3 separate regions of the Homo sapiens genome follow, and all the other regions are linked to region 1. The links come from fine-mapping of genetic effects on gene expression. A gene starts in region 1. Each other region holds a variant in brackets. All regions are shown on one strand. Distances are between the middles of the regions.

Region 1 (8,188 bases):
TTATATTTCCTATTTTGGAACATACCACAGTGCATTAAAATTGATTGTATATATGTTTTAATTATTTAAAGTAATGATGATTTTTTTTTTTTTGAGACGGAGTCTTGCTCTATCGCCCAGGCTAGAGTGCAGTGGTGTGATCTTGGCTCACTGCAACCTCTGCCTCCCAGGTTCACACCATTCTCCTGCCTCAGCCTCCTGAGTGGCTGGGACTATAGGCACCCGCCACCATGCCTGGTGAGTTTTTTTGTATTTTTTTAGTAGAGATGGGGTTTCACCATGTTAGCCAGGACAGTCTCAATCTCCTGACCTCATGATCCGCCCACGTCGGCCTCCCAAATTGCTGGGATCACAGGCGTGAGCCACCACGCCCGGCCTCTTTACATTTTGCTATTTCCTTCCCATAAATATTTCTTGAAGAAAAACTCTAAAAGATGAACAAACACAAAAAACAGAGAATACCAGATGGTATATATTTGTGTGGTCTGTGGTTTAACACAAACTTAAGTAAAGTTAGTTCAGATTACATTCAGCATGCCAAGCTTTCATGGTAGACTTGAGACTGGACCAAGGTTTGAACAAGCATATGAGGCAGTAGTAAGAAAAAAGGTACAGACAGGAATTAACATGGCATGTAGGGAAACATGAAACCAGCCTGATAGGACAAGAGTTAAATGAGATTTAAACTCACTTTCTAAACCTCCATCTCCAATTGGACAATTTGCAAGAGACAGGTGCACCAAAGAAGCCGATTTATTCAATCCCTTTAATGAGGGGGAAAAGTTAAAAATGTTATTGAGGTTTTTTTTCCTCTAAAAGCAACTATCAAATGTCTACAAGCCAAATGAGACAAAGCTTACCTTTGCTAGAATAGTTAAATCCCTCTCTCTCAGAATTAGTCCATTTAGCTCCAGGTTCTTTAGCACACTTGATATACTTAAACAGCCTTTAAGAGCTTTACACAACTGGAAGGTCACATCTTTGTATCTTATCGCAGGAACACGACTTCTGCAAAATTTATTCATGTCAGAACCTAAAACAAAGATAAAAGAAAGTTAGTGACTTCAATCATACAATGTATCATTCAAAAACATCTGCTCTGTGCTAAGACATAGAAATGAGCCATGTCCTTTAAAGTCCTCTTAAGCACAGACACATGTAAACTCAAGCCACATGGGATATACCAAACTATGTACATAGAGGTTCTTATGGAAGCAAAGAAGTTGCACTGAAAGGATGGCTTCAAGATAATCCTGAAGCTGAATCTAGAAAGATGAGAATGACAACATGGGGTGAGAGTGGGTGATGCATTAACCAGAGGGAGCAGCGAGAGCAAAGGCATCTAAGCCTGACACCTGCCGGGCACTGGAAAACTGCAGGTGGATCCGACTAAAGCCCAGAGCCGTAGCCGGAAGAGTCAGAAATTTACAAAGAGGCAGGGAGAAGCAAGCCTAGGAGAGTTCACTTTTACCTCACAGGTGATGAGGATCAGGGCTACCACTGACACATTAAGGATACCCCTAGCAGGTTAGAAAAATGTGCCTCACTGTTGGAGTATCAAAGAGATAAAGGAAATGAGAAAAAGCTCCCCTTCCTCAAGACCAACTAACCCCAGGAGGCTTAACAGAACACAGCTGAGATTTCAGTGCCTCTGTGCAGAACACAAGCAACCAATACACACTGGTCCTGCGTGGGCATGCCACTTTAAGCATGTCTTTTCCTTTTTGAAAGATCACTTGAACCAAAGTAGGCAGATGAACTGAGAAAAACCAAGCTCAACGGCAGCAAAACTAGCTAGGAGCGTCTGCAATAGTCCAGGCAAAATGTAATTAAGGATGGACAAGCAATATGTAGGAGGTTAAAATCTACAACCTAGACCCACTAGATGCAAGAGATAAAGAAGGTTCAGTGAAGAATATCTGACGAGAATGGTCTGTAATACATTTTTCTTACATTCAGTGCAAAATATTAGGCAAGATCTAGTAGGCTAGCCTTGACTCTGAGGTCCCTCCCATCTTTAATTTATTTTGGTTCCTGGTTTTTTTATTTTTTGTAGGGGGAGGGTCATGGACAGGGTCTTGCTCTGTCACCCAGGCTGGAGTACAGTGGCAAAATCATGGCTCACTGCAGCCTCAACCTCCCGGGCTCAAGAGATCCACCAAGCCCAGCTAATATTTTTTACTTTTTGTAGAGACAGGAGTCTCACTATGTTGCCCAGGCCAGTCACAAACTCCTGGCCTCCCAAAGTGTTAGGATTACCAGTGTGAGCCACCGCACCTGGCCTGGTTCCTGATATTATTTTGGTTAACTAAAGTCCATTCAGAGGTACAGAACAGTTCCTGCACCTGAATGAGATGTAGAGAATAATCTGACTTATTTTCAGAAGCAGATGTGTTGAACTGTCCTTGCAGAAGAGATGGTGCTAACCCCAGAGCCTAGAAAAGGGCCGGGCACACGACAAGTGGTCAGGTTGTTTTTAAATACATCAATAATCATTTCCTCTCCCAGATCGCACACCCTCCCTCTTTCTCTCAGCTTATAAACATGTTCACGTCCATATCCACTTAAAAAACACCTTTCAGACCTACAATTATCTGGATCTTCTTTGTGGGTAATCTAGGTCCCTCCCATGCCTTCAAATACCTGTCCTCCCACAAAGCCTAAATCTTGGGCCCAGATCTGCCTAGCAGACACATTTGGATGCCCCACAGGCCCCTCTTAAAACATTAAAGACAAACTGAGATCCTCCTCCCACCCCCAATCTCATTCGAGTTAACTCGGCTGTGTCATGGAAAGACGCTGCTGTGTTTCACTTACAGACGCTGCTGTAAACTGTCACCCATACTTGCTGCCCCCCTCTTCTAACTAGTCACCACGCCCATCCATTCTCTTAGATATCTGAAATCCTACCCTTCTTTTTTTTTTTTTTTGAGACAGAGTTTTGCTCTTGTTGCCCAGGCTGGAGTGCAACGGTGCAATCTCAGCTCACTGCGACCTCCACCTTCTGGGTTCAAGCAACTCTCGTGCCTCAGCCTCCCAAGTAGCTGGGATTACAGGTGCCCGCCACCACGCCCGGCTAATTTTTTTTTTTTTTTTTTTTGTATTTTTAGTACAGATGGGGTTTCACCATGTTGGTGAGCCTGGTCTCGAACTCCTGACCTCAGGTGATCCACACCCCCCCGCCTTGGCCTCCCAAAGTGCTGGGATTACAGGCATAAGCCACGGTGCCCGGCCCCAGCCCTTCTTTTCTATACCTTAGTTTGGGCCATTAGATTACAATTCACCATCCTTCCAATTTTAATTTGTCTTCCATATGGAGGCTAGACTGAGCTCCTACGGAAATTCCATCTCATCATCCTACAGCGGTTTCCCAAAACCTTCAGGATAAACATCCAACTCTATGACAGGACAAACGAGGACCCTCCCTGTTTGGCCCCCACAAGGTTTCCAGCCTCAACTCTCTCTGCTCTTTCTCAAACCTAAATTCCAGTCCTGTAACTCAGCTTGCATACTCTCTCCTATTTCCAAAACTTTTGCACAAACTGTTCCTTCCTGTTACCTAGCTAGCGTCTATAGGAAGCTGCCTCCATTATGTAGAAAATGCTAAGTGCTCAAAGGAATAACAGCATTTTGTCATATATCATAGTTGACCTAACATATTTTCCGAATAATCAGAGAGTCTGGATCCCTAATTATACCACTATACATTTACAAATGGCTTGTATTTGTAAAGCACTTTACAAACTTCTTATATACACCTTAAAAAATGAAGACAGGCCGGGCGCGGTGGCTCATGCCTGTAATCCCAGCACTTTGGAAGGCCGAAGCGGGCGGATCACCTGAGGTCAGGAGTTCGAGACCAGCCTGGCTAACATGGTGAAACCCCATCTCTACTAAAAATACAAAAATTAGCCGGGCATGGTGGCGCGCGCCTGTAATCCCAGCTACTCGGGAGGTTGAGGCAGGAGAATCACTTGAACCCGGGAGGCGGAGGTTGCAGTGAGCCGAGATCTTGCCACTGCATTCCAGCCTGGGCGACAGAGTGAAACAGTGTCTCAAAAAAAAAAAAAAAAAAAAAAAAAAAAAGACAAAGGCTGACATGTATTAATTTCCTACCTGCTTAGTTCTCTATCAGGCAAATCAAAGTCATTCAATAAAATAGGTAACATCTGTCAAATGTTTAATGATGTCCCAAACTGTGCTAAGAGCTCTGCAGGCATCAGCAGCGCAGGGAATCCTTGCGAAGGCGCACATAACCTGGGTCTCGTTATTAAGCCCATGTTACGGATGAGCACACTGAAGCCCTAGAGACCTTAAGCCACTCACCTAGCTCGTGAGTGTCCAGGCCGCACACCCCTTCTATTGCACACATACCCCGACAATGGACACCACTCACCTAAAAACCCACTTCGCCGCACCGACTGAGGGGCCCTGGAGGCGGGAACTACAAACCTGTGTCCCCCAGCCAGGGCTGGAAGAAGCTCTTGATGGAGACCAAGGGCAGGTCTTTATTGATCTTGAGGGTGCTCAGCAGAGGCGCCCAGTCCACCCCGCGGAGGCGGTCGGCGTTGAAATCCAGCACGCCCTCCCGGAGACAGGCGCGCACGGCGGGCAGCGGCACCGAGTTCTGCAGCGCGCACAGGTACTCGTAGTGGGAGAAGAAGTCCGCCGCGCTGTCGCGGCGCAGCTTCACGGAGTCGATCATGGCCCGAGGGCGGCCTCGGGGGATGCCCGCCGCGGAGACGCCGCCCGCGCCCACCCAAGAACGCTGAGTCGCAACCCGGCCGCTCCGGCACCCACGGCCAGGCGATAGCGGCAGCCCCGCACCGGGCTCAGGAGCGGTGATTCGGTCGGAAGACGCAAGGCCAGAGCCCCAAGCTAGGCCGGCCCCTCAACGCCCCACTCCCGCGCTGCCTCCCGCCCTGCGGCCCAAGCAGTTGGCGCCCGCCTCATAGTCCTCTGAGGCGCCGGGATTCAAGCCGGTGGGCGGTGCCGTGGAACGGTGCGCCAAGACGTCAACGTGCTCGCTGTGCGTCGGCACGCAGGTCCCGCCTCCTGAGGACGGGTGAGTTCGCTGCTACCTGAGATAGTGGTCGGGAGAGTTTGAGGGTTTGCGAAAGAGTTTACTGATCGATCCGAATAAAAGTGAAATGTGTGGTCGGGCGCGGTGGCCCACGCCTGTAATCCCAGCACTGTGTGAGGCGGGGGCGAGCGGATCACCTGGGGTCAGGAGTTCGAGACCAGCCTGGCCAACATGGCGAAACCCCGTCTCAATTAAAAATACAAACATTAGCCGGGCATGGTGGCGGGCGCCTGTAATCCCAGCTACTCGCCTGTAATCCCAGCTGAGGAAGGAAAATCGCTAGAACCCGGGAGGCGGAGGCTGCAGTGAGCCGAGATCTTGCCATTGCACTCCAGCCTGGGCGACAAGAGCGAAACTCCGTCTCAAAAAAAGAAAGAAAATAAAAAGTGAAATGTGGATGTAACAACGCACTTTTAAAAAAAGTCTAAACATCTGAGGAATGTGTCTGTGCTTGCAGTGTCCAGCCAGCACAGAGACTGCACTCAAGGGATGTGGGAACGGCTGATTGAACGTGAACTGCGGTCATTAAATCTTTTATGTCTGTGTTAATATCTACAAATAAGCCTTAATTTCTGTAGTTTCTGCATATCTCACACGGTTCCTGGCAAATTGAAGAGTGTTTCATGAATTCAGGACTTTATTGTGTTTGCTGTGAATCAGTTTGTTTTGTACTGACGATGATGTTGGCTAACTCCCTTGTAACTAGTACTTATTTGAAATAATGTCCTCGGGATTATTTTAAGCAATGTTTAAGTATGAAATCATTTCATTCTCCTAACATCTCAAGGAATATACTATTATATTCTACTTTACAAAAGGGGAAACTGAGGAACGGGGAAGTTAAGTGGAAGCTAAGTGGAAGAATCCAGATAATTGACCTCTCCTTCTATTGGTATGCAATTGCTAGAGCAATGATAGTCCTCCGGTAGAGCCTTAGACATTGTGTTTATTGCATTCCTGTTCCACCCACTGCATTCCGGATACTCCAACTTACTTCCAACACACATATGCAGGCGTCTCTAAAATTCCGGAGATATGGTCACCAATTATTTTTATGTGCGACATGCTCAAATCTTAATATAGTAAACGCTTGTATATTCATAAACCAGCTTAATAAATGAAACATTACCATTCCTGTTGAAGAGCTTTGTGTAACCACCTTCCCAATCACGACTACTCTCTGACTCTGAGATAACTGCTCTTCTGAACTTGGTATTCATCGTTGCAATGTATGTCTTTATATTTCTGCTACATATGTAAGTAAGCAGTATATAACATTCTATATTTTCTTTTCCTACTTTACTTATCGTTACCTTTACTAGGTCCATCCGTGTTGACATATAGAGATATTCATTTATTTTCCCTGTTGTTATATGGGAGTTCCATGTAGAAACATACAGTAATGTGTCTGTTTTTCTGTTGATGGTAATTTAAATTGTTTCCAACTTTACGATTTCTTTGTTGCTCTATCCATTTTCTTTCTAGTCTCCAGCATCAATTAATGTAGTGTCCATTACCTTTTTAAAGCTCCCTCCTCCCTGTTTCCCATGAAGCCACCTGATTTCTTTTTCTTTACCTCTCGAATTTCTTCTTCTCAGTCTCATTCTTTGGCTTCTCTTGCATATCCACTCTAAATATTGCTGTTCGTCAGGTTTCTACCCTCAGCTTTCACCCCTTCTGACATTTTACAGTTTCTCTGGGTGTTCTTGTCTTCTGCTCAGCCTTAACTTCCCCACTCTAGGCAGATTACTTCTAACACAGATAGATCTCTTCATCCATTAAATTGCCCCCTAGAAAGCCAAGATTTCTCACTGCCCTCAGTGTCAGATCTATGTCACGTAGCTTGACATACAAGCTCCTTCATAATTTGACTATCTCTGTTGTCTCTCTCCTTGCTACATTCTTCCTGGCATGTCTTCTCTAGATACACAGAACTGCTTGAACTTTCTGATGTCCTATTGTTGCTGTCTGGGTCTTTTCATAGGCTGCTCCTTTATTTAGTCGGCTAACTTCCATTCTTTTCCCAGCCTTGGTTTGGGGCACCTTCCCTAGAAAGCCTGTTTCTCTCTAACCCTCATCTCTCCTCCCTTGCTTGTTTAGCACCTCACTGCTGTGCTCCCTGACATCCCTGTAGCATAACACTTAGAACATCCAATGATAAACATCTTTTTAGATGGTTTTCCTTCCAGAGTCTGAAAGCCCTTTGAAGGCAAGAACCATGTCTCATTCATGCTTACATTCCCTATGCCTAGCACAGTGTTAGCACAGAGAAAGTGCTAACTAATGACTAATTGTAGGAACATTCTTCCCTATTATCCCCGCAAGCTATTGCCAGCACCCTGTAGCCACTGCCTATGAATGCAGCTCAGAGAAGTCTTCCTCATATTAATAATCATTTAACATATTCATTTAAAATTTATGTTTCCTGTGCTTACTTATTTTTAGTGTGGCAAGATTTCTTTCAAGGCTTGCCTGATAATCTCTTCTCTGCTTCAGTTAAATTATGACTTAATAGTTGCTTCAAAAAAAGAATGGCTCCAGTTCTCCTTTCAGCATCTGGTGGGTTCACCCACACACTTCCCTGAACACTGAATGAAAACTGTCTCTCTGTGGCACCTCTGGGATCCTCTGACAAACCAGGCTCACACCTGGCCCAAGACAAAATGCCTTGGCTTCATTGCAGGTGCATGACTTGGGAGGGACGTTCTACTGGGTGGTATAAGAGATGAGCTCTCCTCCTTCAGGGGATCTGGTGAGTGAGTGTTTGAGTAGAATACAGGTAAATGGTATCATTTAAGCACTTGTTCACTGTACTCTACTCCCAGTCAATCCAGACTGTTATACCCCGACTTCCTAGCCCACTTACCTTTCCATAGAACCACAATGCCATATCATCTGCTTATCTCTAACATTCATCCTCTCTGTACTTGCTTCCAGAGCAGTGAGGTTTGATGGATCCAGGCACAGAGCAATGTCAACCTGGCCAACAACATAAGCTGTCTTATGTTAACGGATGTGTGGTCCCCATTTCTTTTTCCCATTACCTTCCTTGTGGCTACTCACAGTGGTTGTTCCAATTCCTTCTCCTTCTTTCTTTTCATGTTG
Region 2 (8,188 bases), 25 kb after region 1:
TTTCCAAATAAGGTCACCTTCACAGGTTCCAGGGGTGAGATTTCTAAGGTTAGGTCATAAAAGAAAATCCCTCTTCTGCCTGAATCTTTCTCCCAATAGATAATCACCATTGGAACCCAGCTACTATTTTGTGGGGAAGCCTAGAACATATAAAGAGGCCACATATAAAAGATCCAACTGACAGCCCCAGCGAAGGCCCCAGCCCACAGCTAGACATTTAAGGGAACGGGCCTTCAGATGATTCCAACCCCAGCCTTTGAGCTGTGCTAGCTGAAGCTCAGTAGAGCAGGGAGGAACCACCCCCACTCACCCCTGCCCAAAAATGCAGATTCGTGAGCAAAATATATGTAGTTGCTTTTTTAATCCACTAAATTTTAGAGTGGTTTGTTATGTAACATTCAATTCCCGGAACATTACCCAATGTCCACAGACCTACCTGAGACATTTGGAATCTCCTGTGGTAGGGTCACCTTTTGTCATGCGATCACGACCTGGTGATCTTGCTATGGGTTTCTTTTGAGTTCAACCATCCTTCTCTCTGGACATAGTATGAAGCAGTTTGGCTAGATACATAGGTGTTACCAGCTTCAGCCTGGCTTAAGAAAAGATGTAGCTAAGTACTGAAAGAATTTAACTACTTCTTTTGCTGGTAAGGTAGCTCTCCGGGCCTCTGGAGGACCAACCAGTGGCACAGAAGTGTAACTCTGACACTTACTAGTTGTGTGATCTGAGCCAAATTCCTCAAATTCTCCAAACTACATCCGTAAAATGGGCATTATGATACCCATCTCATTTATGTAAGCTTGTAGCTCAAGGTCTGGCTTATTTTAAGTGTTCAAGAAGTAATAGGTGACTGTTTTAATTGAAAGTTAAAATGTTCAAATTTTTTTTTCTCTTAATATGTAAAATAACCTCATTGATGGAGGTTGTATAAACTTGCAAAACACTTCCATACTTAGTAACCAACTGTAAGACTACGCTACTCTGGACTCTGGATTTTTCAGCATCAAGTAAGGGACAGTAAATATTTATAACAGCAACACAATCCTTGTTGCCACAGCTCACAAGGGCCTATTTATTAAAACAGGTGGCATTAAGCCAAGAGTGACTATTAAATTTGTAAGTTGAATTTTTTTGAATAGTGATAGCCCCCTTACTAAGCAAAAGAAGACAAAAAAAAAAGCCCTACTTCTAACACTTGGGAATTTCTAACTAAATAGTTTCTTTTTTGTGATGGCAAGATTTATCCCTTATATTAGAAACACACGTGAGACCGTGAGACCATGAATCCATGGTATGGGTTTTAAGACTGCAGAATTAGCTGGACTTAGGGAGCACTTAGTTGATCCTCAGATCTCAAGTGGGGGCCAAATTTAATGCTTCTGAGTAAGGTTATTTTTATACATGAGATTCTATGTACTATTTACTAGTAATTTTTTTCAGCTTTGTGCATGCATCAAAAACTCAGTCATTTTACAAATTGCAACATAAATAGCAATTCCATCCACACAGTTTTTGGCAGAAAGAAGTTTCTTTCCACAAAATCCACTCAGTTTTGCTTGTTTTATTCTCCTATTTGCCAGTATATACTAAGGAGAATCCATTCTTACTGATATTGCTGGCCTTTTTAAAAGCCTTCCCACTTGCCTCTTACAAACTGAGGCTCTACTGACAAATGGCTTTTTCTCCCTGCATTCTGTGGAAAGCTTACAAATGCTGAATGCTAAGTGGAAGGCAACCAAAACCCAAATTCACAAACGTGTGCACTTGAAAATGTGCAGTTGGAGTCAATCCTTTGTCTGGAGCCCAGAGGAAAATACTTGATTCTGTTACTAGGTGGCAATGTTCCTTTACCAAAAGGGTGGTTATTAGCGTCTGCTCTAAAACAGAAAGGAAAACGCTGCCTTCTTGACCCATCCTTAGCAACTTTTTAACCAGACTTCTTGGTTTAAGACCACAAAGAGACATCAGTAATGTCAGAAATTCCAAGGTTGGAGTGCACAAACGAAAACTTATTCCCCTGGTCACTGTACATTGCAAAACTCTATGATATAAAGCACATGGTTGCTTCCAATGACTGTAAAAATCCTCTCTAGGCTGGGACTAGAAGTATATTCCAGGCCTTAGTGAACAAGTGATATAATCTCACTTGTCCAATGATCAGTGGTATAGTATTAATTTTATTTATGAAAAAACAGCCCTTGCATTGAGGTTCTTTTTAAAAAAAGGAGTTTCTTCCATCCCATTATCAGTTAGGGTTACCAGATTTAGTAAATCAAAATACAGGACAGCTAGTTAAATTTGAATTGCAGATAAACAATGAATACACTTTTTAGTATAAGTATGATCCTTGCAATAATTTGCAACTACTGATACTAAAAAAATTATTTGTTATTTATCAAAAAAAGTTCTGAATGAGTGGGCCTGGTACCTACATTTTAAAAAATACGGTGTTTTCCGTACAGATAATTCTCAGATCACACTTTCAAATAGCAAGAGTCTGAAGCTGTGAGATCATGAATCTCCTTGAGAATCAAGTCTTTTCCCAGAAAACACTCATATAAACTCAATACTTTCACACAACTTCAGTGAAAGAACTGAAATTCAGAATTGGCTAGAGCCTACAAACCTCATGAACCCCAAGTTAAGCACTAGCCTTAGTAATCTCATGTGGTTTACTGAAAAGCTTGGCTCTTCCACAGAAGTGAGATGAGAACAGGCTCATTTTGAGCCCTCCCACTTGGCCTACTCTTTGTCCTTCCCAACACTTCTCAGCACAAGGAGAGCATTTTTTTTTTTTTTTTTTTTTTTTTTTTTTTTACTTTCCACAAGAAATAATCCATAATCCCCTGCAACAGTATGAGTTCCCTACTTAAGTGACATGCTTTTTCTTTAGTGCCTCCCAGTTACCTCTGTAAAAGGATTGTTTGGAAATAGGGTCTGCCTGAATGAAGCCTAGAGGCTGTAAACAAAATTCCTCTTCATCAAAGATGCAAGTAAACAATTCTGGGCCAAACTGAACCACAGAGAGGTCATCTTAAATGCCCATCAAGCCATAAAAGGGTAGCCAGGGGATTGAAATTTTACACCTGTGTAAGGCAGGGAAGTAATACTGAAGTTAAAATAAAATAGCAGGCTCATACACTTAAAGATGGTTATTAAGCAGAGGTTGTCACCTTATCTCTGTGAGAACTAGTCTTGCAGATGCCTTGAGAAGAAGGAGTCCCAGCGTGGGACTCTGAGGGCCTTGGTGTGCTGACCCTGTGGCAGGGCCATTGCCCACTACACACTAGCTTTGGGTGGGAGGTGTAGAAGTTGCAGTGAAGTCCCACACTCATGGAGCAGCTGTAGTGCTGAGAAAGTGCATTAGAAGGCATAGGTTGTGTTCAGAGATAAGGCACCCATGATACCCCTCTGAAGTCCCTTTAAGGTGCTCATCCTGCCACCTGTAAAGCATCTAAGGCACCCTGGCCCCAGGTCGGGGGATGGAACCACAGTAAGGCTGTGGTATTACTGTCCCTTGGAGCTGAAATAAGTGCCGGGTAAGATGGCACTGGGACTTGGTTGAGTCACTAAGGTAGAAGTCCCAAGGCCCTCCATTAAATTTCTCCCACCTGAAAGTCTGGGCCTCATGAAGGTAAAAACTGCTACACAGGGAAGGTGTCTCTGAAGCTGCTGGAGCTCCCTGTTGGGCTGGACCAGAGCCCTTCCGTAACCTCGGCACTCTTGCAAGAGAAGGCAACCCCACTGTATTATACTCTCATGGGCTGGAATAGGCCGGAGTCCCAGGCTTTAGCGCTTTGGGTTTATAGGGATAACCACTTCTCCAGAAGTACCATGGTTAATTTATTTCAATGACTCTATTGGCTAGCCTCCTACTGGCTCTCAACCTAGCCTCATGGACCTCTTTAATTCATAAAGGTAGGCTGGCATGGGGAGAGTATTGCTCCATTTTCCTTTGGAGATGGAAGTCTTAGTATATCTTAATTACCAGACAATGGAGTCTTCATTCCTTCTTTAGATTTGCCTAACCAAGAAAACCTCAGAGTAACATTCCAAGAGCAAAGATGAACATCTATCCTGAAAACAAATAAACAAACAAGCAAAAAAGCTGCTTTCGACTACAAAGCTACAGCAGGACACTTTCTCTGCAGTGAAATGACTGAGTCAAAGGATACGGGCATTTGAAAAGCCCTCTTTTGTGTAGCCACTATGTGGAATAAAGACAACTCATGTGATATAACTGTAAAACAATTTCTTATTTCCCAGTGCCCCTTTAACTGTTTCGTTCTTCCTCTCTCCTGATTGAAAACTCCTATAGTCCCACGCGATGATCAAAATTTTAATCTTCGTTCAAAGGTCAATCATCCTGCCTTTCCCACTGTGGTACTGTTTCAGGACAAGGTCGACTTCTCCATCCTACCCATAGCACTTTCCCTCCATCTGCCCATCAAGGCTATGATTAGGCCACCTGTAAAAG[T/G]CTGTCTTGGCTTCCTCAGGCTGGAACTGCAAGGTGGGAAAGGAAGTGAAAAGGGCGAGAAAGTTCTTATTTGATTGATGTTGTCAGTGGATGGCTTCTGCTTGCTGGAGCGTGAAGCTGTTTTTTTCTCTTATGTGCATTTTTTGTGGGTTATCATGAAAGCTGCCATTGTTGGGGGATGCTTCTCTTTCCGTTTCTTTGATGTGGGAAATGATGTCTCTTCTAGCTGGTCACTGGCAGCTCCTCTTGCGACTTCTCACCATCCAGTGACCCACAGCTAGCTTCCTTCTTCTGATGTTCTCTTAGTCTTCAGATAGCCCTCAGAAAGATTCTTGATGCTCCCAGACTGCCTGCCTCTCAAGAGTGGTACAAACCTCTTCCTCAGGAAATACACTTTCTTTGGCCACAGCCACCTCTCCTAGATCAGCTTCTAAATACTTCTATCTCACTGTGTTTACATTTCTTAGTGGGAATCAGACACAAGTATAGTCCCCTAAATCAAGCTTGTCCAACCTGTGGCCCATGGGCTGCATGCAGCCCAGGATAGCTTTGAATGCAGCTCAACACAAATTCATAAACTTTTTAAAACATTATGACATTTGCTTGCAAATTTTTTTTAAAGCTAATCAGCTGCTGTTAGTATATTTTTATGTATGGCCCAAGACAATTCTTTCAATTGTCTTTCAATTCTTTCTTTTGGTCCAGGGAAGCCAAAAGATTGGACACTGCTGCCTTAAACTGAATGTAGCACATCTTGAATTCTCTATGTGGGCTCCTTAAAACCGTTAAGTGGGAAACATCTTCTATTCCTCACCCTTGTTGAGGTATCTAGCACTCCAACATCTATCTCCAAAATCCTCCTCCCAGTTTCACCTTCAACCTCCATGTACTTCATCCTCTTTGTATTTTTAATGTGTGTGAGGGATGAGTTCTGTCATTGGTGTTCAGATACTTATTTTGAAAATTTGTATTTTGTTTTAGCAACTCACTTTGAAGTGCAATATATATTGTATCTTGATTCCTCAGTCAAAATCTTCAAGGAACAGCCAATTGCATAAGAAAGATTTGCTCTTGTTCTCACTCATAGGTGGGAATTGAACAATGAGAACACATGGACCCAGGAAGGGGAACATCACACACCGGGGACTGTTGTGGGGTAGGGGGAGGAGGGACAGATAGCATTAGGAGATATACCTAATGCTAAATGACGAGTTAATGGGTGCAGCACACCAACATGGCACATGTATACATATGTAACAAACCTGCACGTTGTGCACATGTACCCTAAAACTTAAAGTATAATAATAATAAAATTAAAAAAAAGAAAGATTTGCTCTTGTCACATAATCATAATTTCATATCAGGTATAAACCTGAAGGATTTGCAGGTGATATCATTGCAACTGCCATTTACTAGCCACCCGCAATATTCATTTACTCTTGAGATATTATTCATTGGTGGCCCTATGGAAACCAGATCCTCATTTGATTTCTCATTGATGTCGTCATTACTAAATCTTTGAAGGTATGGATCAGCTTTTCCACTTCTTCCATGAGCTTCTTGGGCTCATCCACAGAGGCATAAAAGTACTGAGAAAACTGGTTGATATGGTTACTATTTTGCTTACACCCTCAAAAAATTAAATACAATGTGTTTGTTAAAGCAAAAGTTGATTGATGACTTACGTATAATAAAAGCCATACACATTTATCACAAAAAGCCCAAATTGCAAAGAAAATTAGAAAGTGGAAAAAAGTAATGCGTGGTCCTACCACCCAAAGAGGTAATGAGATAGTCGTTTTACTTAATTGTCTTCCTTTTTTTCATAATTGTAATAATAATGTACTGATCCCTGGGTCCCGCCCCAAATATTCAGATTTATTTGGTATGGGGGCATGTTCTAGACTCAGTGTTTTTCAAAAGCTCCTTAGGTGATTGCGACATGCGGCAGTTTGAGAGCTACTGCTCTAGGCGCCTGCCATTGACTTGTTCTCCATGCTTTTACTGTATTCTTGGTTAATTAGACCATGCAGAATGGATCGTAGAACCCACTGAGAATCAACTGTAATCATAAGTGTGTGTCAGCATGAGAGGGAACAAGTCTTCTAATTACTAGTTCATACTGGATGGACATCTACATCTGGCCACTCATGATGAAGGATAATGATGGATGGGGATAAGTTGGTTTCCTTATCACCATGAGGATAGCCTCACTGCTTCGCCAATCCCCAACTCTCTCAAGGCTGGCATCAGAGACTAGTTAGCTTTCCATGTGGGAGGATTTACAGCGAGTGAAATCACTGTGGCAGTCTGACTCTCTAGTAATCACAAGTCATAGTTACAAGGGTTTTTTAAATCTAGTGGCAACTTTTAGGTTGCACTGAACTGTGAGAAAGGAATTGGAAGAGTCTTGGGGCTTATTTTATGAGAAGTCTCAAGGAACTTTTATGATTGGTTGCACCCATAAACAACTTCATAATCAAAATGACTTGCTCCATCATAGTTTCAGAGACCTTGGAGGGGAGGACAGAAATGGTCAGGACCCTTCTCAATGCTTTCTCTTCTCAGGAGTCCACATATCAGAAACAGATGTGTTAGCCCTCAGATTGATGGTGAGAAAACGTGTCAGGAGACTCAGAATGAAGGCTCACATGCTCACATCACATACTGGTTTTGCAGATAGCTTGTATTATAATTTACAACAAAATTATGGTAGTTAGCCCAGCTGCTAGATCTTGTTATTTATTAATAAAGCAGTACATGTTACATATTATTTTAATATTTTGTCAACTGTATTTCAATGTTACTGGTATAATCCTAGGTTTTTATAATGTGTTTACAAACATGAACAGGCTTTTGTTTCATATTATTTTGATAAGTGATGCATGTCATTTTCATTTTTAATTTAGAGGTGATTGTGGAATTGGGAGGAGAAAACTAGCAGAGATAACTAGGAAATTTTACATTGTTATAGCTTCTTTTTTTTAATTCTATACTTTATTTCCTGTGTTTCCAGTATACTTTTTATCTGATATTATGGCTTACTATGCTCATTTGTTGCCACATTTTAATTACCTTTCCCAGTGATTAATTATTTGCTTCCAGATAGTGGGCTGGTACGATTCCCGCTGGTTCTATTTTGGAACCAATGATAAGGTACATTAACGAGGCTCAGAGTTGCTCCCACGAGACTGTTTTCCTTTTCCCATTGATGTGGCCTCTTCTTTTCACAGTATTAGAAATTGTAACTCAGGCACAATGCTTATTAGCTTATTCTCTTATCCCCAGATCACAGATGGAGATGTGGTTTTTAAAATATCTCATATTAAAAGTTCCAAAATCAAGAGTAGGGTGATGTATCACCACCCCCAGGTTGATATTCTAGGAATAAATGTCAAGAATAGAGATAGAAATTACCTATTACAAGCGGCCTAATCATAAACATTCTCAGGGCTGTTTTTCTTGGGTAATGTGCTGCAACCCTGCTCCTGAATGATTTTCTCAGAAGTACATAAGCGAGAATGGCATCTTAGAGCTTTGTTCTACCAGATAGAAGAGAAAATGAAATTTATATTAGCACTAGTGAAAGTTAATATTCAAAAAAAAGTGAAATATGTTTATTTTTGTACATTTTAACACCTCCCCATCTAATGGAGAAAACTGTATTTCCACCATATGCAACATCAAATGCACCACCATACACATTCA
Region 3 (8,188 bases), 30 kb before region 1:
AAAAACCAATCATCTCCTATCATGCCGATCCTCTGAAAATCAAGTGTTACTGTCTTGAGATTAGAGATTCTGTAAATACCCATTTGAAATTGGACGAACTCATTATTGGATATAGAACTGGATGGGCAAGCAAGAGTGATGATTTTTGACCACTAGTAATTATGTGTGAATTTAAGACAGGATGACAAGCTCTTTGCTACAGTATCACATCTGAATGTTTTCTGAAAAGGGTCCTGTTTGCATACAGATTGTATATGTGCTGGTAAGTACTCAGTAAAGGTGCATAGTAATTTCTCAGTAAAGGAACACACTTGTACCTTTCTCTAAACCAAATGAAAATACCATATTTCAAAATTAAATGATATTATTTCAGGTATATTGAAAGTTTAACAATTACTTGCAGGGCTAAAATTGTATATATTAAGCAGCAAAATATCCACATTTATAACTCTTAATGTTACGGTTTTAAATGTTTGATAAAATATATGTAAAATATGGAAGAATTTTAAAACTATAATTATGTGATTGTGTGTAGGTCTTGTAAAAATCCATGGTTAAAGAAAACTGGGGTTATCAGGTATAAACTCATTTAACTTCTAACTCTTCCCATTTTTGTCTCTGTCCACACTTCCCAGGATCCCCCAACTCTACAATAACTTTTACATATTTTACAATGTGACCCCATCCCTGATTTTATTTTCTAATCCATATTTCTTTCCCAGATTCTCTAAGTTACTTATCTAACCATTTTGCACTACATGTATGGGAGTCATCTCAAGTTCATCAAGAATTCAAATATGTACATCCCCATCTGTTCAGATCTGTTTCTTTTAGTCTTAAGAACATTAAAGTATCTCATGTCCCTGCTTGTCTGAGATCCTGCTGCATAAATGAGCCTCTCCTTCTTTACTTGGTTCTTTCCTTTCACCTTACAAACATTTAAGTCCTTAGTCTAAAAAATTCCTCTTCAGCTAACTCCATTTCCTCTTATCATCCAAACTCCTTCAAAGAGTAGTCCTATACCTAGTTTTCATTGCCCCCTCAGGGCATTCCTGCCCCTCAATTTACTGCAATCTGGCATTTTCATCAACCAATTCAGTGAATTGCTCTCATTAAGGTCACCTGGGACCTAACTGTCAAAATCCCGTGGACACTTATTCTCTGCCATGTGACACTGTATTCTACTTCTTCCTTCTTGACACTCTTATCACTTGTCTCTCTCAGAATCCTTTCTTTGCTTATCACTTAAACCTTGACAGTCCCCACAATTCTGTGTTCTCATCAACTTTATGATTTTAACTACTGCTTATATGTGCTGATGACTTTCAAATTCTTTATTTCCATGTCTTCATATGTACATCCAATCATCTACCAGTCATTTCCTCCTGAAATCTGCAGGTGATGTGTTCAACCTGCTCCAAACTAAACTCTTCTTTCCAAAGCAGTTCTTTATCCCATATTCTCAGCCTCAATGATACCACCACCCAACCTTAGTCACAGAAACACAAGTCCACCCACTGCCTCTTTTTTCCTTACTTCCCATAACCAAATCTTATTTAATTGCCAAAATAAGATTAAAACTTACTCCCTCCCTTCATCTATACCTTATTTTAGATCCCTTTCTCTTCTTGCTAAGTCGTAAGTTACTAAATTGGCATTTCGTGGCACCAGTTGTTAGGCACTCCTATTAAAAAAGGATTCTATAAACAAGTATATTTGAGAAGGGCTGCATACCATATGCCTGTCTTGAAGACTCAGAATGAACATTAGCCTCTAGCACCCTTGAGAAGTACTACTGTAAAGAAACCTGCGGCCAGGCATGGTAGCTCACGCCTGTAATCCCAGCACTTTGGGAGGCCAAGGTGGGTGGATCACGAGGTCAGGAGATCAAGATCATCCTGGCTAACACGGTGAAACCCCGTCTCTACGAAAAATACAAAAAATTAGCAGGGCATGGTGGCGGGCACCTCTAGTCCCAGCTACTGGGGAGGCTGAGGCGGAGCTTGCAGTGAGCCGAGATCGCACCACTGCACTCCAGCCTGGGCGACAGAGCAAGACTCCATCTCAAAAAAAAAAAAAAAAAAAAGAAAAGAAACCTGCTTAATTCTATTTATGCGAGGGTCTCCTTTATGTTTGTCTAAAAATTATTTCAGTAGGAGAGGAATTGGGAGGATAAGTCCCATTTAAAAATCAAAGACAAATGCTCTTCAGAAAAGTGTGGAAAACTGATCTCCACACTTCTTTAATGTATCAGCCTAAAGCTAATGATCTAAAATGCAAGCCTGAGCATATAACTTCCATTCTTTACTAGCTCATTATTTACTGAAGAAAAAGAACCAGCTCCATGCAACGTGGATTATAAGACTCGATCTTGTTCCCCTAGCTGCCTCCTTGAGCGACATCTGCTAGTGCCTGATGACATTTCGGTAACTCTCAACTACTTGTGTTTGTGGTTCCTCAAACGCACATACTCACACTCACGGCTCTGTACTTCTGCTCATGCTATTCCCTCTGCCCTGAGTATCCTTCCCCTTCACCTTCTTATTCACCAGCCTGTAACTCATTACTTTTAAGACTTAGCTTAGAAATTAACATGACCTTTGGTCTCTTTAGTTGGCCTTTCTTGGCCCCACTGCTCTCCTCCTTTTTCCCCACACTGACTAAACTCCCTCAGCATTTCCACCATAGAATGTAATATACGGTATTACGACATCTGCTTGTGTATCTCCCCTTCACTCAACTGTTAAAAAGCCAAGATTACATCTTGTTCATTGTTTCATTCCCATAAGTCAATCCATGATTAATGAACTCAGTAGTATTGTAGTAGCCCTTTTGATAACAATCAGGCAAGACCATCCAGAAGAAATCTGACGCTCCAGCTTTTCTCTCATCTCATCTCTCAAGTCATAGTCTGGTTGTAGGAAAGGACTTATCTATGCATATTTTACCAGGGAGGGGTATTTACTCCAAAGATTTATATCCATACTCTTACTAACTCTGCCTTTGAAAAATTCAACCCAGGTGTGCTTTCTGATAGCCCCACTCTTTTCTACTTATAGTGTTCATTGGCTTTTTTCTCAGAATCTTCCTTAAGTGGTTCCTCTCTTAACAGTGAAACAGGATAGCTCATTAAAGTATGGGTTCTGGTTGAGATCCCAGCCCTACCACCTATTTACAGCCGTGCAACTTTGGGCAATTCACATAATCTGTCTCCTTAGACACCTCATCTATAAAATGGACATAATAATATTAATAGTTCCCTATCTTATAGGGTTGCTATAATCCATGAACATGCTTAAGCATCTAGACATGTTTGCTGCTCTGGTTATATATTAGAATATGTCAATGGCTTCTGGCCATGTGATATATATTTATTTCCAAATTTAACCAAATGGTAAAATTATTCCATTTATTCACTCCCATCCCTTTCTATTCATCGTACTCTGCTTTGTTGTTCTGTTTTCTCCCTCCACAGAATGTTAGTTCCTTGAGATTAAAGGCTTTGTTTTGTTCACTGCTGAAAGCCATAGCACCCAGAATGATATTATACATACTAGCCCCTCAGTAAACAATTGCTGAATCAATGTTGTAAACTATCAAAGGGAAAAACAGACCAAAAATTTCACTATAATAAAAAGTATAGAGAAATCTTCCTTTAGTGGCTTCCAATCCTATATTTTAAGACACCATATGCCATAATAAAAACATAAGAAAATTTATTAAAATTTAAAGGTAAAAACATAGTTTCAAAAGATTTAGTCATATGAAAGGTGTGATAGAGAATGGATGCTTTCTTGAAATTCAAAATCACATCCAAGAGTATCACTTTCAGAATGTTCTAGTGGACTGGATTTACTTTTATTTGTCTTGGATGAAACAGTCACTATTCTATTTTCTTTCTTGACAGAAAC[G/A]TATTTTTTCAAAGACCTACTTTTAATTGGTTCATTAACCAAAGAACTAGTTTCCCTAGTTTCTTTGCTTTTCTGGTTTTCAGGACAGTCAGATCAGGAATGCAGGTCCTTTCCAGGGTGTTGCTTATCAGAGTGTTTTTTGGTATATTCACCTGTTTTGGTCTTTTTCTCTGAAGAAGATCTGCTATTTCTGGACAACTCCTCTTCTTTTCTTTGACTTCCAGTTCCAGAAGTCGCATCTGGTGAAGGAGAACACATTCTAGCAATGAATCCTTCAAAAGACTCCTGCCGCTGCTCAGTAGCTGGGACTCCTAGGTTGTTGCTGGAAGTTCCTAAGCCCTCTGGAGTAGAAACTGGGACAGGAAAGGAGTCGAGAGGCAAAGGAATTCTAGCATCACCTGTAATTTTCTGAAACTAGAAGGAAAAACAAAACAAAAATTTAGTGACAAACAAAGCCATCCATTTAAAAATCGAGTTCAAAACGTCAATGTTATTCTGTGATCTTAGAAGATTTCCAGGTCATTTTTGCCCTAATTATATCTTGCCAAGTGATTGCCAACTTAACTTAGCTATAGCCAGGAGTAGGTCCAGCACATTTTCAGACTTCTGTGTTTTCTGTAATTATTACTAATTTATGTCTCCCTCATTAAAAAAAAAAGAACCTTATTCTATAAGAAAATTAGTATCTTTCCTATCCTCTATGCACATGTAAGCAGTATCCAATTTATAAGTAGACTGAGTTTTCAAGTCGTCAGTTGCCAAGACCAGTCTGAGACTGGCTGAGATGGCAGATGGGGGCTCCAAGTAAGGCCAGAGGAAAAGCAGCAGGGGACTCCTGTGGCAGACAGGTTTGCCCCTCCCATTCCCATAACTAGATGATGCCTATAATATACTGCCTGTTATATATGAATTACTTATTCTGAAAAATTATCTATATCAGTACTTGTACCTTCATTAGTGTTCCTTCATTGTAAGCTGACTGCATACAAATAGAAACCTAGATGGAATATGAATAGAATAGACATTTATAAAATTGAAAATTGAAAATCATTTCTCTAATCTTTCATTTCTTCACTGAGGATAGTCTACTTTAAATCATAAAGTTTCAAAAGAACTTTCTTATTTTTTATTTACAACAATACAATATAAGGAAATGGGCACAAACTTACTAATCTCAGTCTTGGAAAGGACCCCAAAGATGCTTCTGGTCCCTGAGCATGTGCACAGATCATTATTCTTTTCTCTCTGACTTAGTAATTCCCTTTTTTGCTAATCACTTGTAGAATCACTAAGTTCTGTTCTATTCATTTACCTGGATATTTTGCATTTGCCCTAGGGCATTCTGCTTCGGTTCTGGTTTTTCATCTTCAAGCGCCTTCTTTTCTTCTTTAGGTGGATTACTAACAGTAGAAGTCATCTGGGGATGACCTAGTAATTGAAAATCTGACTGATCTATCCCAGCCATTGTGGCAAGCTGCCCAAGCCTGGTCGAGAGAAGAAAAGGAGGAAAAGGCAAGGATTACTAGAAGCACATAAGAACAGCTTACATTTCCCCAAACCTACAATCATTAAATACTTCTAAAATCTTAAAACCCATTATCCTACTCCAGACTACACCCCCATCCCTCCCAATTTCTCAGACCTTCCCACATTTATTCTCTGAGACAAACCATATCATATCATCCAATCCTTTAAGCACTGTCTCTTCCCCCAACAATGTATTAGATACCTCTTGACTTCATTTCCTTACTTATTCCGTATTTTATATACTGTCTCAGTAGAAGCTGCAATTTCTACCACACACCTACTGCCTCTCACCTTCATCCCCACACATCTATACCACCTTTCCTCCAGTCCTCAAGAATATGTTTGTTCCTTTCCTCACCAAACCGTTCACCTACAAAACATAACTCTATCAATTATCTATCTCCAACTCTTTCTTTCAGTATATTCGTTCAGCAAAATCATTCTTGGTTGAGGACCACTGATCCATATCTATATCTATATCTACCCTGCAGATTAATAACAATTTTAATATCTCAAACTTAATTTTAATTCAAACTTATTTAACAAGCAAAGTGAATAAAAGAAAAATTCCTATACATTCCTGAATACTTTCAATTAAAACTACCTTCAATTTGGTCTTTAACAAGAATCACAGCTACCAATTACTCTATCTACAAGTTACTCTTTTTTTTTTTTTTTTTTTTAAGAGATGGGCTCTTGCTATGTTGCTCAGGCTAACCTTGAATTTCTGGGCTCAAGTGATCCTCCTGCCTCAGCCTCCCAAGTAGCTGGGATTACAGGTGCAAACCACCAAGCCAGATAAGTTTACTCTTTCATATTGGGCCCTCAACCAAGGCAGGTTTGTCATTTTGCATTTCTTTTAAAATTAATTCCACATTTAAAAAATCAAGTGTATTACTTATAATTACACAGTAAATATGACTTCAGAAAGCTATAAAAATTGCTCAAGTTCCTCAGCAAAACACCATTAAAGTCATGGAGGGACGAATGTCATAGGGAGAAAGTAACTAACCCAGCATCTTTAAGGAGATCCAAGAAAGCATGAAACTTCTGAAAAGAATTCTCAATGCTGCCCAAAACACCTTCATCATCCAGGATCATATTTGTCAATGACTGTGCATGAAGGGCTTCAGACAAAGAGAAATTTATATTTCTTAACTGGGCATTTTCATGTTCCAGCTATAAAAGAAGATTGAAAATGTGTGACATGATTTTCTCTCATTATCACCAAAATAGTTTTTATGAAACTAAAATAAAACATTTTAAAAATGTAATTAATTTGCAGTTAATCTAACTCTCTACCAGTAAAGACAGACCATATTAAATAACAATCAAAACCTGGAGATAACTGACAAAACCTCCTACATAAATAATATAAATAGTATTTCATTAATTATCTTTCAAAAAGATCACATTTCTAACAGCTTAAATACATACCTGGATCATTCTATATTTAAAAATTAGCTGTTTAAGGTTTCCCTTAAATTAGACAATGAAATAAAGAGTAAGCATTTTACAATTTGGCTGTTAAGGACTAATTTTTGCCAGTAAAATACTTAATATATAAATTTAAAAGTCCTAAATCATACCCAATTTACTAACTGTACAATTACCAATATTGCCCCTTTGCTTCTTGAAAATATGTACTCTCCTGTACACCAAATCTATTTATCTAATACTACACATAAGTCTAACTCTAGTATTTCTCAGAAAGGCCACTGTGTTCACAAAGCACCTTTTGCCTTATACAATCAGGTGCTCAACCTTTATTGAATGATTAACTGTCTTTCAAACCAATGCATATACTTTCAAAAATTCCTCCTTAAACTTGCTTTGTAATAATAAATTATAGTTATGTAGAACTTTCTAGTTTATGCCCTGCTCTTATGCACATTCACCTAATTTAGTCCTCATGGTATAGATTTTTATCTTTCATTGCATTCTTACCGGTTTTCCATTATCTTTTACCTTATTTATTCATTTTCCTAATTCCCCTTCAGTAGATAGTCTCATCCCCATCTTTTACGCAATTGTATATACAGTATAAGCCTAATAAATGCATTCTTGAATTGATGCATCATGAACAGAAAATAAGCTCCAGTCATATAAAAACAGAGGAAAAGAAAACAAACTACAATTTTTACATTTTTAAAAAACATGCTTTTTGGAATACAGATCACACGGTCACCAAATATAAGTAAATACAAACATTAACATACTGTGACCATTTGCAATACACTATATTTTCTCATTTTAAAGTTTATAAAGTGTGTGTATGTATGACTTAAAGTTAAACCAAAACCAAAACAAAAAACTCTCAAAAGGTAAGAAAACTTTTATTTACCTCACTGACTCGTTTATCAACCTTAAGCCTTATCACTCTTTCTTCCTTTAACTGCTTTAGGCACTCCTCCAGTTTTTCCTAGTATTAAGTAATAAAGTAAATATTATAATTAATTCCCAATATGATCCCCAAAACTCTTCCAGCTGTTGAGCTCACCAAGTGTTTAGGGACAGAGCCAGAAGTGAACTCAGATATCAGGATTATAGCCTACTGCTTGTATAATATCATACCATGCTAGGGAAATTAATTACCAAAAACATCAGATTCGCACATTACAGATTTATTTCCACTCTTTCCAAAATAAATTTATGACAGCTCACCATAGAAGGCATACACATATATTTATTGAGTCAAATAAAAATTAAGGCTATGAAAAAGAAATTCTATTCTTATTTGTGGATCCCTT

Alleles and levels. Positions count from the first base shown, and alleles are read on the strand shown. Sizes are in standard deviations (SD) of each study's normalised expression. Not every link is listed here.
For the expression in memory regulatory T cells of the gene that starts at base 4,981 in region 1, G is the low allele of the variant in region 2 and T is the other (moderate effect, 0.72 SD a copy in Schmiedel 2018).

Evidence for each region.
Region 2: its variant is fine-mapped to the expression of CEP78 in memory regulatory T cells (Schmiedel 2018, PIP 0.91).
Region 3: its variant is fine-mapped to the expression of CEP78 in whole blood (TOPMed, PIP above 0.99).

Annotation. Positions count from the first base shown.
Region 1 is chr9:78,232,868-78,241,055 of GRCh38, reverse strand. It overlaps CEP78 (centrosomal protein 78), which reads right to left and starts at 4,981. Exons shown (of 17, transcript NM_001330691.3): 1 at 4,453-4,981; 2 at 861-1,033; 3 at 692-764. The coding sequence starts at 4,705. RefSeq lists a silencer at 4,588-4,957 and an enhancer at 4,583-5,252.
Region 2 is chr9:78,207,558-78,215,745 of GRCh38, reverse strand. No RefSeq gene overlaps it. Among named protein-coding and RNA genes, the nearest start is that of CEP78, 24 kb to the left of the region's middle. RefSeq lists an enhancer at 4,430-4,749. The variant T/G (reference allele first, on the strand shown) is at 4,481.
Region 3 is chr9:78,262,579-78,270,766 of GRCh38, reverse strand. CEP78 (centrosomal protein 78) reads right to left here. Exons shown (of 17, transcript NM_001330691.3): 12 at 7,783-7,860; 13 at 6,451-6,617; 14 at 5,224-5,395; 15 at 4,861-4,908; 16 at 4,064-4,325. Among named protein-coding and RNA genes, the nearest start is that of PSAT1, 30 kb to the left of the region's middle. The variant G/A (reference allele first, on the strand shown) is at 3,912.